2 separate regions of the Homo sapiens genome follow, and region 2 is linked to region 1. Evidence: fine-mapped expression QTL. Tissue or cell type: putamen. Region 1 holds a variant in brackets; the other region holds the start of a gene. All regions are shown on one strand. Distances are between the middles of the regions.

Region 1 (8,103 bases):
TACCCATAGCTGGGGGCTGGGAGTGGAAGGATGAAGAGGTCAAAAATAATACATAAAATAAAAAGATGGGCACTAGGAATGCACTGGTGATGGTAAGGTGCTATGTACTGACAGGTCTGATCAAGTCAATTCTGCATCTGGACTCTAAAAAGGAAGAAAAGATGCAGTTTAGAGAAGATCCAGCTCAGGGCCAGCCCTCAGTGATTTTTAAGTGATTCTGATGTGCGTCTAGGGCTGAGAGCTGGTGGCCCATGCCTAACACAGGCAGGTCTGCAAATAACCCTCTAGAAAAAAAGGGGTTCTGGAAAGAGCAGGAAGTGAGAGGGGATGGACATGAATGCGCCCCCGAAATGGCAGCTGTTGTGTTAGAACAATGGTATTATGGGAATTATCTTCCTGTATCTTCCAGATTCCTTTTAATGTCATTACATTGCTGATGTATTTTTTTTAATGCCACTGCTGTTTTGTTCCTAAGTAGTTCAGAGTTTCTAGGGAGAATTAAGAGCCATAACGGAACTCAACAGCCACTTGAGAGTTTAAAAGCTCAGCCTGAATGGTAGCAGGTGCCAGATTCAGGGGAAAAAAAAGTTACACTGCAGTTAAAACAAGAGTTAACGCTTTCCGTTAGGGAGAAGTCTTAACAGTTATACTTAAAACATTTATCCTTATATGTTGCATTTCACAGCTTAAATACAGGAAGTGAGTTGAACTAATATTTGCTATCTAAATGACAAGCTATGAAAAATGAGCCCATTGAAAGGGCAGAGTTGGCCGGGTCTTCCCAGAAGCAGATGCAAGACAAGACGAAATAGGCAAGAAATTAGGAGAAACATCTGTGAGAGAAGCCTGGGAGGGAGCCAGAAGACACGCTGAGAGAGCGTGGCTCCAGGCCAGATCTGATGCCCAGTGAAGGACAGAGGGAGGAAAGGCAGGCCCCGCAGCCTAGGGCAGGGTTGGCGCGGCTGTCAGGGAGTTCTCCAGCCAGACACCTGTCAGAGGGGGCCACGCCCCCAACAATAGGCCCGCTCCCAAACCCCTGCCGAGCCCTGTCATTGGCCGGAAGTAGCCTATGGGAGGCATGGCGTCGGTGTGAACAGGCGAGGGATTTCGGCAGGGCAGCTGGGGTAGTGGGTCAATGCCGCTCCCTGCAGTTGGAGGAGAGGGATGCTTCCTTACGGCCGCCACAGTTTTGCCAAGTGTTTATAAACTAAGCCTAATGTCTGCTCCTGGATGACATCTCTCATGGAGTGGTGGTGGCGCTGGGTTTTTTTTTAGGGGGGTGAGGAGTGCGGGGGTTGGGGTTTTTTGTTTGTTTGTTTGTTTGTTTTGAGACAAGGTCTCGTTCTGTCGTCCACACCTGGATTGCAGTGGCGTGATCACAGCTCTCTGCAGCCCCGACCTCCTGGCCTCAAGAGGTCCTCTCTTCTCAGCCTCTCAAAGTGCTGGGATTACAGGCATAAGACACCATGCCCTAAGTGGCACTTCTTCATTGGGTGAGGACAGTAACTAACTGGAAGGAATTTTAAATTTTTCTAGGACTTGCCTGAAACTTTCCCGAAACTTCTTTCTTGTGATGGAAGAAACATGGAAGGACAAAGGTCATCCACTTGAAAAGGTTTTCCACGGGTAACCATGACCAAGAACTAGCTCTATGCCAGGCCGAAACTGTCAGTGTGGCATGCTTTCTCTTTTCTCATCCTTACAGTAGCCCTCAGAGGTTGATGCTATTATTATCCCTGGAACAGGATCAGTGAGATAGTCATTTGTGTTTGGCTCTCCCTGAATTTCACAACCCTCACCCTCTGCCTCCGGGGAGGTTTGTGTTGCTGAAGTAGAAAGCAGAAGCCGTCCTCATATACCTGCCCTTCTGGCTTTTTCAGAAGTATGAATTGCTCAAGGGGAAAAGGGTGGTGATTGAGAGGGACAAAGAGGATCCTGGGCCATAGAAAGGGGTAGAGGGAGATTCCTGAGGCTGGTGGCTTCCTCAAGTAGGTAGAGGACCTGACCCTGTTCTTAACATGGTCCAGAGTATATAGCAGGACTGCAGAGGACCCTGATTGCTCCTCCTGAATTGAAGATTATAGGCCTTTCCTCATTTGGGGCACTGTGTTGGCCTCCTGGGTACCATGCAACATTGAGGAGGCAGAGGGAGCACCAATAATGCTTGGAACTGACCTCCCACCAACTTGGAAGGGTGGAGGCTTGGAGACTAAATTTGATTGGCATTTATGGAGTACAAGCCACAGCCATTTCAAACTTGTTCTGTGTGTGTGCGGTGGGAAGTCCAATTTCAGGCATTTGTCAAGGCATGCTCCTCTTAGGGTCGTTTAAGGGTCTTGGGGTAAGAAGTCTTTTGGCCTGCACCCATTGTGTGCAGCTCTGCCCTCATCTACCCATCTCTGGCTATGGAGCTACATGCAGTGGGTCGCCCTTGTCTGGTGTCCTGTCCAGGCCAGTGAGGCTCTTCAGAGGGTGGGCTGTTCCATGATTGGCATGTGCTCCCTCTATGCCTACTCATCAGGCATTTCACATGGCTTCTCAAGCCTCAAACCTACAATCCTGGATTTATTAGGAAAATACTATCTGTTGCACCAATCAAATCCCAAATTTCCCGTGGCTTGAAAAATAAATGTTTGATTCTTGCTCACATAAAAAGTCCAGCACAGGTATTCTTGGTTGGCAGGTGGCTTTCAGGGGCCCAGGGGCCTTTTATTTTGTGGCCCTTCCCTCCAAGATCCTTGAATTCTCTGTACCCAGGAGTTTGGTATAATAAAGAGAAGACAGAAAAAGACATACCTGCTTCTTAGTTCCCTAGCCAGGAAATGCCACAAATTGCTCTACTCCCAGTCTGTGGGCAAGAACTAGTCACATGGTCCCACCTCAACACTGGGGAGTGTGGGAAACATAGTTCCCGGCTGGGCAACTCTGTAATGTACGAGGGGAATGTGAGGGAACAGGAGTCTTTGCTGTCCCACCGGCCATCTTTGTCAGTCCCTCCATGATCCCCAGTTCTAGCCAAAGACCACACTTCACACTTTACTAGAAGGTAGAACCACTCAGACATTTTCTTATCCTCCTGCCACCAAATCCACCAGGATATGTACCCACACTCTCTGTCTTCTCTCCTGTCACAAAAAAATGCCATAGGTGCTAAGTACCCCTGAAGTGGAGTGCGGGGCCACCGCAGTAGGCAGCCCCTGAGACAGCTCCCAGTGCTCCTCCCCTCCTGGTATTCATGCATTTGTGTGATTTCCCGCCCTTGAGTATGGGCTGGGTTCATGACTCACTTCTTTTTTTTTTTTTTTTTTTTGAGATGGAGTCTCACTCTGTTATCCAGGCTGGAGTGCAGTGGTACTATCTTGACTCACTGCAACCTCCACCTCCTGGGTTCAAGCAATTCTCTTGCCTTAGCCTCCCAAGTAGCTGGGACTACAGGCACCCACCACCACCACACCTGGCTAATTTTTGTGTTTTTTGTAGAGATGGGGTTTCACCATATTCGCCAGGCTGGTCTCGAACTCCTGACCTTGAGATCCACCTACCTAG[G/A]CCTCCCAAAGTGCTGGGATTACAGGCGTGAGCCACCTCGCCGGCCTGATTCACTTCTAATAAACAGCATATTGCAAAAGTGATGGATGCCACTATGAGATTAGGTTATAAAAAGACTGTGCTTCTGTTAGGACCCCCCTCACCCCACTCCTCACTCTCCCCAAGAGCAGCTGGCTGCCATGCTGTGAACTGCCCTATGGAGATGCCCACATGGCAAAGGGCTGATGTCTCCAGCCAACAGTCAGTGAGGACCTGAGGCCTGCCCACAGCCACGAGAGAGAGCTTGGAAGAAGATCCTTTCCCCATGGAGCCTTGAGATGATTGCAGCCCAGGAGACATTGCGATTGCAGCTTTGGGAGAGCCTGAGCCTAAGGTGCCCAGATCAGCTGTGCCTGGATTGCTTTGCTGCCCCACAGTGTATTCCTTTGCTAGGGCTGCCATAACAAAATACCACAGACTTGGTGGCTTAAACAAAAGACATTTCTTTTCTTTTCTTTTCTTTTTGAGACAGTCTGGCTCTGTCACCCAGGCTAGAGTGAAGTGGTGTGATCTTGGCTCACTGCAACCTCTGCCTCCTGGGTTAAAGCAATTCTCCTGCCTCAACCTCCCAGGTAGCTGGGACTACAGGTGCACGCCACCATGCCCAGCTAATTTTTTGTATTTTTAGTAGAGATGGGGTTTCACCATGTTGGTCAGGCTGATCTCAAACTCTTATTCTGAAGCAATCCACCTGCCTTGGCCTCCCAAAGTGCCAGACCTTTATTTTCTCACAGTACATTTTTTTTTTTTTTTGAGACGGAGTCTTGCTCTGTTGCCCTGGCTGGAGTGCAGTGGCGTGATCTCGGCTCACTGCAACCTCTGCCTCCCGGGTTCAAGCAATTCTCTGCCTAAGCCTCCAGTGTAGCTGGGATTACAAGCACCCACCACCACGCCTGGCTAATTTTTGTATTTTTAGTAGAGACGGGGTTTCACCATCTTGGCCAGGCCGGTCTTGAACTCCTGACCTCATGATCCACCCAGCTTGGCCTCCCAAAGTGCTGGGATTACAGGCATGAGCCACCGTGCCTGGCTGTTTTCTCACAGTTCTGTAGGCTGGGTTCCAAGATGAAGGTGTCAGGGAGTTTGGTGTCTCCTGGGGCCTCTCTGCTTGGCTGGCGGGTGGCTGTCTTCTTGCTGTGTCCTCATGTGGGCTTTTCTCCATGCGCATTCCTGATGTCTCCTTATCTTCTTATAAGGACACCAGTCCTATTGGATTAGAGGCCTACCCTTATGACCTGATTTAACCTTAATCACCTCTTTCAAGGCAGAATCCCCAAATACAATCACTTTCTAAGGTTCTGGAGGGTTAGGGCTTTAGTATAGGAATCTGGGAGGGGGCACAATTCAGTTCATAGCACACAGGAACTGAGAGATAATACAAGTTTGCCATTTTTATGTTAATTTTTTTTTTTTTTAAGAGACAGGGTCTGGCTATGTTGCCCAGGCTAGCCTCGAAACCCTGGGCTCAAGTGATCCTCCCACCTCAGCTTCCCAAATAGCTGGCACTTCAGGCAGGCGCCACCATACCCAGCTGTAAATGTTTGTTGTTTTAAGCACTGAGACTGGGGTAGTTTGGTACACAGCAATCAATAACCAAAACAAGCACCTAGGCAAGACTCTGAGAGGCTGTGAAATCGTCTCATCCTCTATGGCTGAGGCATGAGAAGGCTATGGCTTCCCTGGGCCATAGAAGCAGCCAGTAGTAAGGATTTCTTTGAAAAGAGATGTGGGTCTGCTGAGCCAGGCTACTCCTGCCCCATCTCACCCATCCCACACCCCACTGGGCTGGAAGGAGTGCTTCCACATCACCTCAACTAGTGCGGGAAGTGTTGAGAGAACACATAGAGTATCTGAAGTGTGTTCCCTGAGGTTTGGAGGAACAGGGCTGGTACCTGTCTCCCTGGGAAACTCTAAAAGGGAGAGGTTCTGCCTCGGGGTGACTCCGTCAGGCAGCAGAGCCTGATGAGAGTGAGAGGGCAAGGGGCAAGCCTGTTTCCCAGGATCCAGGTGGACACTGGCAGGAGGAGGCTGGATTTGGGGGCCCTTGAAAGGGACATGGGTGAAAGAGCTTTCTGGAGCTGTTTGACCCAGTGAAGAGGGACACTCAAGTGTTTCTCCCACCTCGACCTCCCAAGTAGCTGGGACTACAGGCACGTGCCACCACGCCCACTAACTGTTGTATTTTTTTTGTAGAGAAGAGGTCTCGCTATGCTGCCCAGGTTGGTCTTGAACTTCTCGATTCAAACGATCCTCCAACCTCACCTCCCAAAGTGTTGGGATTACAGGCATGAGCCACCAGCCCCCAGTCAATATCACTATCTTTTTTATATTTATGTATTTTTTACAACTTTTTAAATAAAATATTATATAATATGTAAAAATATTTTTCTATCTTACCCCTTCAAGATGCAGGCGGGCTGCTGGCTGGCCTGGGCTTCCAGATGTCAGCCTTACTTGCCCTTTGCCTTTTGGTGACTCTGTCTTCTTAGGGAGCTGCACGGCCTGGATGTTAACTATCACTGTCTTTCACAAGGTTCTATTTTATTCCATTGTATGCAGAGCTATGTAAGTTGAGTTGCCTGTGTGTGACTGTAAGGCTCTGGCTCTGGGAGTGTGAGGCAGAGCTTTAGACCTGACTGTGCGTCACACTCCTGGGGGGCTTGTGGAAATGCAGATCCTCACTCAACAGGGGTGGGTGAGCCTAAGAGTCTCCATTTCTTTGCTGTTTTTATTTTGAGATAGGGTCTTGCTATGTCATCCAGACTGGTCTTGAACTCTAGGCTCAAGCTATCCTTCTGCCTCAGCCTCCCCAGTAGCTGGGACTACAGGTACATGTCGCCGCACCTGGCATCTCTATTCCAACAAGTGATGCAATGCTGCTGGCCCATGGCTCACACTTGACTTGTATGATTGTGAGCAAGAAACTGGGGGCCAATGCCCAGCGATGGGAGGCTCTGAAGCACTCACCCAAATGGTTCTTGAAGAATCAGGGATGGTGCATCTGCCCCATGCCAAGTAAGGACTGTAGGGATTCAAGAAACGCCTTTCCTGCCCGTCAGCCACCTCCCTTCCACCCGCACAACCCCAAGCCAGCAGCTAGTGGATGGGAGAGGGGAGCGAAGGGAGAGAGAGAGGTAGCCACATTTCCTCTTTCACTGTGTACAAGGCCGTTCCAAGCTGAGGAGGGAAGAGCTTTCAAATTGAACCAGGATTCGGGATTTCCTTGTCAGTCTGGACTGGACTTTTTTGTTTGTTTGTTTGTTTGTTTGTTTTTACCCAAAATAAGCTGAAAAGCTGTAGAATCTGCCCTAGACCTCATACGGACAAGGCTCGGTGCGGTGGCTCACGCCTGTAATCCCAGCACTTTGGGAGGCCGAGGTGAGTGGATCACCTGAGGTCAGGAGTTCGAGACCAGTCTGGCCAACATGGTAAAACCCTGTCTCTACTAAAAATACAAAATTAGCCGGGCATGGTGCTGTCACTTAGAACCTGGGAGGCAGGGCCAGGCACAGTGGCTCACGCCTGTAATCCCAGCACTTTGGGAGGCCAAGGCGGGCAGATCACGAAGTCAGGAGATCAAGACCAACGTGGCTAACACGGTGAAACCCCGTCTCTACTAAAAATACAAAAAATTAGCCGGGCATGGTGGTGGGCGCCTGTAGTCCCAGCTACTCGGGAGGCTGAGGCAGGAGAATGGCGTGAACCCGGGAGGCGGAGCTTGCAGTAAGCTGAGATTGCACCACTGCACTCCAGCCTGGGTGACACGGCAAGACTCTGTCTCAAAAAAAAAAAAAAAAGACCTCACTCAGCCAGAGAGGAAGCAGCCCACACCATGGGTGAAAAGGCAGTGGGGAGGAAGAAAAAGCTGGCTTCCTGCAAGCCCCTGCATTCCACTGGCTTCACATGAAGGGGCCCCTGATGCCCTCAGCCTTGCCAAGGCCTCTGTTCTGTCTCCTCTGCTTCTCCCAGAGCTACAGGCCCTAAGACTGCCCTCCCTCTCCTGTCTCATCATTTTCGCTCTCTCTCTCTGTTAGATCATTCCCAGCAGCATGAAAACCTGATGCTTCCTTCCTTTACCAAGCAAAACCAAAACAAGACAAATCCTTCCTCAACCCCTTGCTGCATTCAGCCACAGTTCTCAGTAAAACTCCACAGGAAGTCCCCACATGCTCCAGTTCTTTGCTTCTCATTCACTTAAAAATACATATATATTTAAAATTGGGAAATATGTTTATAAAGGGGGCTAAAAAAAGATTTTCTTGCTCCTTGGATGAATAACAAACATCTCTGAGGCTTCCTTTTCTTAACTATAGCAAAGGATGTGGTCTTGCTGTGTTTTGAGAGCATGAAATAAAATAATTCTGTCAACCTCCACAGACAAAAGTAGGCATGTACTCAGTCATACCTACGATGATATATCATATCCTGGTAAGTCCCTGGATCACCTTCTCCTCCCTCCCTGCTCCCACCGTGTCTCAGCTCCTTGTAGGCTTCAATCTCTGGGACTGGGCCTGAGCT
Region 2 (8,103 bases), 29 kb before region 1:
AGGGACCAACTTGAAAATTATGGAACAGGGCAGTAACTAAGGTGTAGTCTCCTAGGGTGCACTGTCAGAATGAATCAGCTCCAACTGTCTTCAGGCTTTATGTCTCTCTGCTAAAGATCAAATTCCCAGAAGACAGTCAGATCAGCCAGCTTTGGTTTCATGCCTGCCCTTTGGCTAGGCAACTTACTGGCAGCACTTAATGGTGGAGGGTGGGAGTGGGGAGCGGAGAAAGTTATTTTACCAAAAGAAGATGCCATGGATGATGGACAGACCAAATTCCAGATGTCCATTCCAGGGAGACTTCCCCAATGGCCTGCTTAGGGGGATGGCAGGGGCCAAAGGTGGGCTTAGCGATTCAGTACACAGCTGATTTCTTGAGAGTACAATATCAGAAAGTGTTTCATTATAAAACTGGTGATATCCTCATAGAAGAAATTTGGAAATCACAGAAAAGTCTAGAAAAAATAATTTTAAAAGCCATCTATGATTCTACTAGCCAGAGTTAACCACAGCTAATTTTTCAGGGTGTTTCTCTCCTTTTTTTTTTTTTTTTTTTTGTGACAGGGTCTCACCCTATTGCCCAGGCTGGAGTGCAGAGGTGCAATCATAACTCAATGTAGCCTAGAGCCTCTGGGCTCAAATGATCCTCCCTCCTCATTTTCCTGAGTAGCTGGGACCATAGGCATGTGCCACCATACCTGGCTAATTTTTAAATATTTTTGTAGAAGATGGGGTCTCACTATGTTGCCCAAGCTGGTCCCAAACTCCTGGCCTCAAGTGATTCTCCCCACCTCGGTCTCCCAAAGTGCTGGAATTACAGGTGTGAGCCACCACACCTAGCCTATGGATTCTTTTTTACAGAGTTCAGGTCACACTGTGTGTATACTTTCATATTTGATGTTTAAGCACTGTGTACTGACCTAACAACTGTTAGAAAAGTGTCTTTGTAACATTGGTCTGGTGACGAGACTTGAGCTGTAGCTGTGCTACCTGCTGGAAGAGGCAGAGGGGACCTTCTTTGGCTCATGATTTCACCAACATTGGGGACCAAGCAAGTGTTGCCCAACTTGGGAAAGTGTCAAGACCTGCCTTCCATCCAGAGGAGGTTCTATCCGGACACCAGCCAAGGTGAATGAGAGATTCCATGGACATAGTCCTGCATACGGAAGGTCCTAGTTCCATATTAGAATCCATATTAAAATCCTTCTGATATGAATAGATCACATTTCCATCTCATCATTAAAGAAGACACTACCTTTATTTAGTCACTTAAAATGATAAGAATATACTTCATGATGAAGAGTAAAATCACTAGGAAGGGACAGGAGTGGTGACTCATGCCTGTAATCCCAGCACTTTGGGAGGCCAAGGTGAGCAGATGGCTTGAGCCCAGGAGTTTGAGACCAGGCTGGGCAACATGGTGAGACCCCATTTCTACAAAAAATACAAAAGTTAGGCAGGCATGGTAGTGCATGGCTATAGCCCCAGCTACTGGGGAGGCTGAGGTGGGAGGCTCACCTGAGCTCAGGAGGTCAAGGCTGCAGAGAGCACATGCCACTGTGCTCCAGCCTGGGTGACAGAGTAAGACCCTGTCTCAAAATAAAAAAAGAAAAATCACTAGGAAGGTGGGATAATGGGAGAATCCTAGTTGAAATATAGCTATACCCATCTTAATAATGTACCATGTATACACAGATGTGTGTATTTAGGCACCTGAACTTGTGTATATAATAATATTAAACTGAGAGCTTGCCTGCTTCAATCTTTGCTGACATTTGCTAAGGGATAGAATTCAAGGTGATATAAGAATTCTCTGTCACCTGGAGCTAGAGAAATCTGTACAACTCCTGCAATTAACTCTCAGGAAAGAGTAGGCCATATTTCTATTAATAGGGTCCACCCCTCAGAATCAAATCACAGTGGAATCACTTTTAAAGAGGTCAGAATTTGTCCATAGAGGAGAATCATTCAGCTTTGCTTTTTGACTCATTCCACGTGACTCAAGGGGCCAGCCTCTCATTCTAATGCCTCTAGGGACACTTGTTTGCTAAGACACATTATCTGCACAGAAAAGGGCCTCCTAAGTCAAGGCTGGGGAACATCGAGCCATTGGGAATGCCATGCTTGGTCTAGTGACTCCCAAGGGACTCCAGCTGAGGGGGCTGTCGCCCTCTGTTACTCCTTCTATGAGCCTTTCATGGACTCCTTCACTCTCCTCATTTCTACTTATTTTTCCCTGGGAGTCGGCTTCAGCTCTCTTTTTAAATTCTGAATTATCTTGCCTGTTTCCAGGGTTCCAACTACCTATGGAATTGTGGCTTCCTAATTTATATCTCTAGCCCAGGCTTTCCTCAAATTCCAGACCCTCTTATCCACAGAATACTCCAGATTTCTACCTTAAAGTTGTCACCAGCACCACCTGTTCACCAAATCCCCAAACTTACTCTTCTCCCTGTGTTATTTTTATCTCAGTGGCACCAAGAGTCTGCCAAGCTTGAAAGCTGGAAGTCACCACTGATTCCTCCCTCACTCCATCCTCACTCTGTTCACTAAATCCTGTTGAATTCACCCAGATGGTCATTCAGTGAGTACATTTCAAGCACCTGCTATGTGCCAGGCATTGTGTTAGGTATCTACTGCGAAGCAAAAATAGACAAGGTCCTTGCCCTCGTGGCTTACAGTCCAGCTGGGGAAACAATATCATGAAGGAAATGTATCCTAAGTTAAGAGAGTGTTTAGTCTGGGAGACAGAGAAGGCTTCCCCAAGAAAGGGGGAGATCTAAAGGGTGCCTTAAGAATTAAATGGATGAAAGTCATAGGTGGGGAGTTCAATTTCTAAGCAGGCAGAACGTCCTGTGTATGAGCTCTGAATGAGGTGGAAGGAATGAGGAATGTCCTTCAAGGGACTAAGGAACGGCCTCTGGAAAGTGAGTGGTCTTCCAGGAAGGCCATCGTGGCTGAGGGGTAATGAATTGCAATAATACTAGGATGGGAGAGGAGAGTGGGGAAGTGGGAGAGGCCCCATTGCTCAGCACCTGGTAAAGATTTTGGTCCTTTTTTTGAGAGGACAGAGAAGACTTTTAAGGTGAGTGGGATGATGGGTGGGGAAGGTTGAGGAATGACAGATTTCTATATGAAAGTCGCTGTGGCTACAATGTGGAAAATGGATTAGATGGGGCCTGGGCAGAGGTGGGGGAAGGCTTTCCCATTGGCTTCCTCCTTGCCATCCCCATAGCCATGATCCCCAGTCCAGATTTTTGTTGTCTCTTCTTGTCTTGCAGCAGAAAACCCCACTACTATTGTCCCTAGCAACTTACCTTCAGTGTGGCTGTCTCACTTCTGACAAAAGAAAAGAAAATCAACAATCCTTCGTTGGGCTCAAAATAAAGTTCAGAGTCCTTAGTCTGGCTACAGGTCCCTTCAAACCTGGCCCTTGTCTCCCTCACCAGTGTCACATCCAACCACTTGTCATCAATACCTGAGCTCTAGTTCATACAAGGGAGACTCGAGAGCTGGACCGCAGTTTGAGGTGAAAGGACCAGAGGAGTAGAGGCACCGAGAGCCAAATCTGAGGCCGAATCAGAGGTCTAGGATGTTAACTGAACAGAAAGTAAAGGAAACTGGCCGAAGCGGGGGTTTCAGGCAGTTGGCTTCCAGCATCTTCAGGCGGTTGGCTACAAGAACATCAAAGACCAACATTTGGGAAGCACTCAGGGACAAGACATCCGGAGGCTTGGATGCAAGACCAAAGGTGTAGTTGATGGGAGGTAGTTCCCCAGGACAGGCCCCCGAGGACTGACAGATGGGAGCTTAAGGACAGGACCCCCAACCAGTAGAGAAATGAGGTTCCCGAACAGCCATGACCACAGCTGGCGCAGAATGGGCAGGACTCAGAGACTTGTAACTCAGAAGGTCAAGGACAATGGCTGACTTGAGGATGACTTGGTAGGAGGAGAATGATGAGAACATTCTTTATATTCTACCTGTCTGGAGACAGAATGAATTCTAGAACAAAAGGAGCAAGGCCAAGCTTCCAATCAAGGCTAGAGCTAGAAGGTCATGGAGAAAGGCGTGGGCAGCTCCTGCCTTCGCCTGCACCAAGTTCAACAAACACACAGTCATAGCCATGGCTGGTCCCCAGAGCACACACAAGGCAAGGATGTTAGTGGCCAGCCCCATGCACCCCGATGAGCTATGCTCGCTTGGGAGACCCATCCTCCTTGAAGGTGAGTGAAATCTCAACACGAGTATGGTTCTGAGAGTAGCTCTGTAACTCTGAGGATGGTCTCTGGAGACCATGACTGTGTACAGTTCACATGGTAACCAGAAGACTATGACATACTTCAGAAGGTGGTGAGGTCATAGAACACAAGCTTTAAAGTAAGTGAATCATGTGTGCCTCATTTATTTTTAAAAGCAACTTCTGAGAAGGGCTTAGAACAAATTTTTTCCCGGAGTGCCATTTCCCAAAGGTACTCACAGAACAATCAGGTGTGACCATAATGGCTGCACTGAGTTGTCTCTTGGACAGTGTCAGAAGGGACATAAAGAAGGTGGACAGAGAACTAAGGCAACTGAGATGCATCGACGAATTTAGCACACGGTGCCTGTGCGACTTGTATATGCACCCCTATTGCTGCTGTGACTTGCACCCATATCCGTACTGCTTGTGCTATTCCAAGCGATCACGCTCTTGCGGCCTGTGTGATCTCTACCCATGTTGCCTGTGTGATTATAAGCTTTACTGTCTGCGACCATCTCTCAGAAGTTTGGAGAGGAAAGCCATCAGAGCCATAGAAGATGAGAAGCGAGAGCTTGCCAAGTAAAATAACTTATTTTTAAATTTTTATAGTCGGTATATTAGCCTTATAAGTTGGAATAAGGAAAAATATGTGACAATCAATAGTTGAACAAAGATTAAAAGGGTTCAGGATAATGACCCTGGTGACTTAGGAAAGATTTAAGGAAAGAAGAGTAAATGAGTCCATGATGGGAATTGTAGGGTTCTCAAAAGACAATGTAATGATGTCGATTGGCAAGGTCGTCGGTGGTTTATAGCAAGAATGCCAGTATGATAAATAATGCGGCTTTAATGAAGGGAAGAAACAGGGGGTGTCATTAAAAAGCCATTGGAAGCAGCAAACTAAACATTTTTCCTGGTTATGAGTAAAGTGATTTGAGTATATTTGGACTTACAGAAATGACTACAGGAGAAGTAATAATAATAGATCAAATCCTTAATGTGTGCCAGAGGCTTTACAAGCAGGAGAGCAAATTGAACAGTAGAGGCATTGCCTTGGTTTTGTGGGAATATCATTCTCCTATCCCCCCACTCCAGGCAAAGACTTACCTTGTATCTGGAATTAGGTCTATCATGTTGGCCTCCCCTCTAACTCTAGCAAAGGTCTTGCAAATAAACTATGGCACTGAGTTGTAGCTTTCAGGATAGACTTGAAAGGCTTTTTAATTGAATTGGGTAATTAAAAAGAGTCAGTTTTTTAAAAAAATTTTTGTTTTAGATTATATTTTCTTTTTGCCTGGAGAAAACTTTCCTTTTCTAACTTTTTACATATGCCATTTAGTCTGTTACTGTTGATGAAAAAGATGGTTGAAAGTGCTGTCCCTGGTTAAATAAATAATACATTCATGCACTGGAATAATAAGTAAATATAGAAAGGATTGATGAAGCATCTTACATATTGATGTATTAAGTCAAACAAGCAAAGTGCAGAAAAACTGATAGACAGATGACAGATAGATAGATAGATAGATAGATAGATAGATAGATAGATGATAGATAGATAGAGTCTCTTGACAACAGTGACAGTGATGTTTCTTTGGAAAAAGCAATAGGAGGCCGGGTGCATTGGCTCATGCCAGTAATCCCAGCACTTTGGGAGGCGGAGGCGGGCAGATCACCTGAGCTCAAGAGTTCGAGACCAGCCTGGCTAACATGGTGAAACCCCATCTCTACTAAATACAAAAAAAAAAAAAAAAAAAAATTAGCCAAGCGTAGTGGCACGTGCCTGTAATCCCAGCTACTCGTGAGACTGAGGCAGGAGAATCACTTGAACCCAGGAGGCAGAGGTTGCAGTGAGCCAAGATTGCACCACTACACTCCAGACCGGGTGACAAAGTGAGACTGTCTCAAAAAAAAAAAAAAAAAAAGGATAATTATTGTCTAGGTCACCAGCCACCAATGGTCAGGAATGAACCTCCCTCATAGCCTGGGAGCTTTCACCTGTAAATTCATCTATACTCTTTGAACCAATGTTTGTTTTTATTTCTTAGGGCATCAAGTCACATAAATTGCTCACACTGTGAGGCAGGGACTCTTTTTAAAATATTTGGTCCAAGTTAAGGTTTCCTTGTGAGCAGATCAGTATCCACTCTCCTCCTACTTTTGGATACTTGAATACCCTTGTCCAGGTCTTTCCAGCCTCTGTCTTCCTGGCTTCTCTCCTATCCCCAGACTCTACCAATTAAAATCCCTCTCTGTCCTGTGCTGTCTACTCTCTTGATGCCTCTTTCAGAAGCCTTGTTTCTTGGCATGCAGTAGAAACAGCTTCAAGCTTAATTCTCGGCAGTGTAGTTTAGGCAAGAGGTAATGTTTTCTCTGGTTTGTGATGCTCTTCCTGACAGCGTCTGGGTCTTTGCCTATTTTTTCTCTGCCTGCAGGCAATATGTGAAGCTGGTGATGTCTTTACATTAATTTCTGGATCTCGGAAATGATAACTCCAAGTCCATTGTAGAAATGACCTCAGGCTTGTCCGCTTTATCTCTTCCAATTCACACCACCTTGTGAAATTTCTATGCTCTATTTCTGACAACTTGACATTTCACTCTCCAGAAGGGCTTAGTGTCACTTGCAAACCTAAATATTCAATTTTCCTGAATATGGGTGAAAATGTTAAACCCTGATTCTAGCCTCAGTCCCAGAAGGCCCCCAGTGTAGTATTTTTTCTTCTAGTGCAGTGCCTTTTATTCTTATCTCTAAGCTAGCGCCTGATCCATAACTAAATAGATGCAGAAATATCATGTTGATTCAATTTTTTAAAACAATCTTTGGTGTGAAAGCTTGCCCAAGGCTTTTTGAGTTTAGAATTCATATTCACATGACCTTCCTCCCCTTTAAAGAATGCAAGGGGGTTGGTTAGTTATGACATATCCTTTCAGATGGCAGGCTGTGTTGTCCAGAAGGTTCTTTGCCCAATATGAAGTAAAGACTCTATAGTCTATAGTTGCCTTGGCCCCCTTGAAACTGTTTTTCTGTGTCACAGTCAATCTGCTGTGTCTCTGGGTCCTCCTTTAATAACTGGTAAAAAGCCTCAACCAACAATTTCTTAATTGATCCCACAGGTTTCTTGAGCACTCCTGACTATATGTTATTTGATTGATGCATGTGTGTGGTGTTTTCTTAGACTGGGCATAGAAAATCCAATCCAAGCTGGGTGCAGTGGTTCACACCTGTAATCTCAGCACTTTGGGAGGCTGTAATAGGAGAATTGCTCAAGTCCGGGAGTTTGGGACCAGCCTGAGCAACACAGGGAGTCCCCATCTCTATAAAAATTAAAATAAAAAAATTAACCAAGTGTGGTGGCACATGCTTGTGGTCCCAGGTACTCAGGAGGCTGAGGTGGGAGGACTGCTTGAGCCTGGGAGGTCAGGACTGCGGTAAGCCATGATTATGCCACTACACTCCAGCCTGGACAATAGAAAGAGACCCTGTTTCAAAAAATAAATAAATAAATAAAAGAAAATCCAATCCATTTCCATTCTTTATTGGGCAGCTGCTTCAGAAGACACCATGTTGGCAGTGTCTTCCTTAGTAGAGACCCAAGTAAGCACCTTTGTTTCTGTAGCTTCTTTGATATCCTCTTTTCCTCCCCAAGAGGCAGGCAGTGTCCCTGTCTCTTCCTCCCTCTTCTGGATTTAGAGGGGCTGAGGGGACTGCATTGGTTTCCTTTGTCGGAAGCCATGCCACCAGCCTGATTTAAGTTGTAACTGATTCACCACCACATTTCATGGGCTTCCCTGCCCTCTGTCTTAGAGCCGGAGAAACAAAACCCAGGCCCTCCTCAATCTTGCCCTAGGAGTTTATGA

Evidence for each region. PIP is the estimated chance that this variant, and not a neighbour inherited with it, causes the effect.
Region 2: it holds the start of ODF1, and the variant in region 1 is fine-mapped to the expression of ODF1 in putamen (GTEx, PIP above 0.99).

What each region holds. Positions count from the first base shown.
Region 1 is chr8:102,576,073-102,584,175 of GRCh38, forward strand. No RefSeq gene overlaps it. Among named protein-coding and RNA genes, the nearest start is that of ODF1, 29 kb to the left of the region's middle. RefSeq lists an enhancer at 7,553-8,052. The variant G/A (reference allele first, on the strand shown) is at 3,547.
Region 2 is chr8:102,547,226-102,555,328 of GRCh38, forward strand. ODF1 (outer dense fiber of sperm tails 1) reads left to right here and starts at 4,364. Exons shown (of 2, transcript NM_024410.4): 1 at 4,364-4,822. The coding sequence starts at 4,503. LOC124901998 (a long non-coding RNA gene) reads left to right here. Exons shown (of 3, transcript XR_007061039.1): 2 at 2,473-2,584; 3 at 3,282-3,371. It overlaps LOC105375684 (a long non-coding RNA gene), which reads right to left and starts at 3,403. Exons shown (of 2, transcript XR_928478.3): 1 at 3,318-3,403. RefSeq lists an enhancer at 8,096-8,103.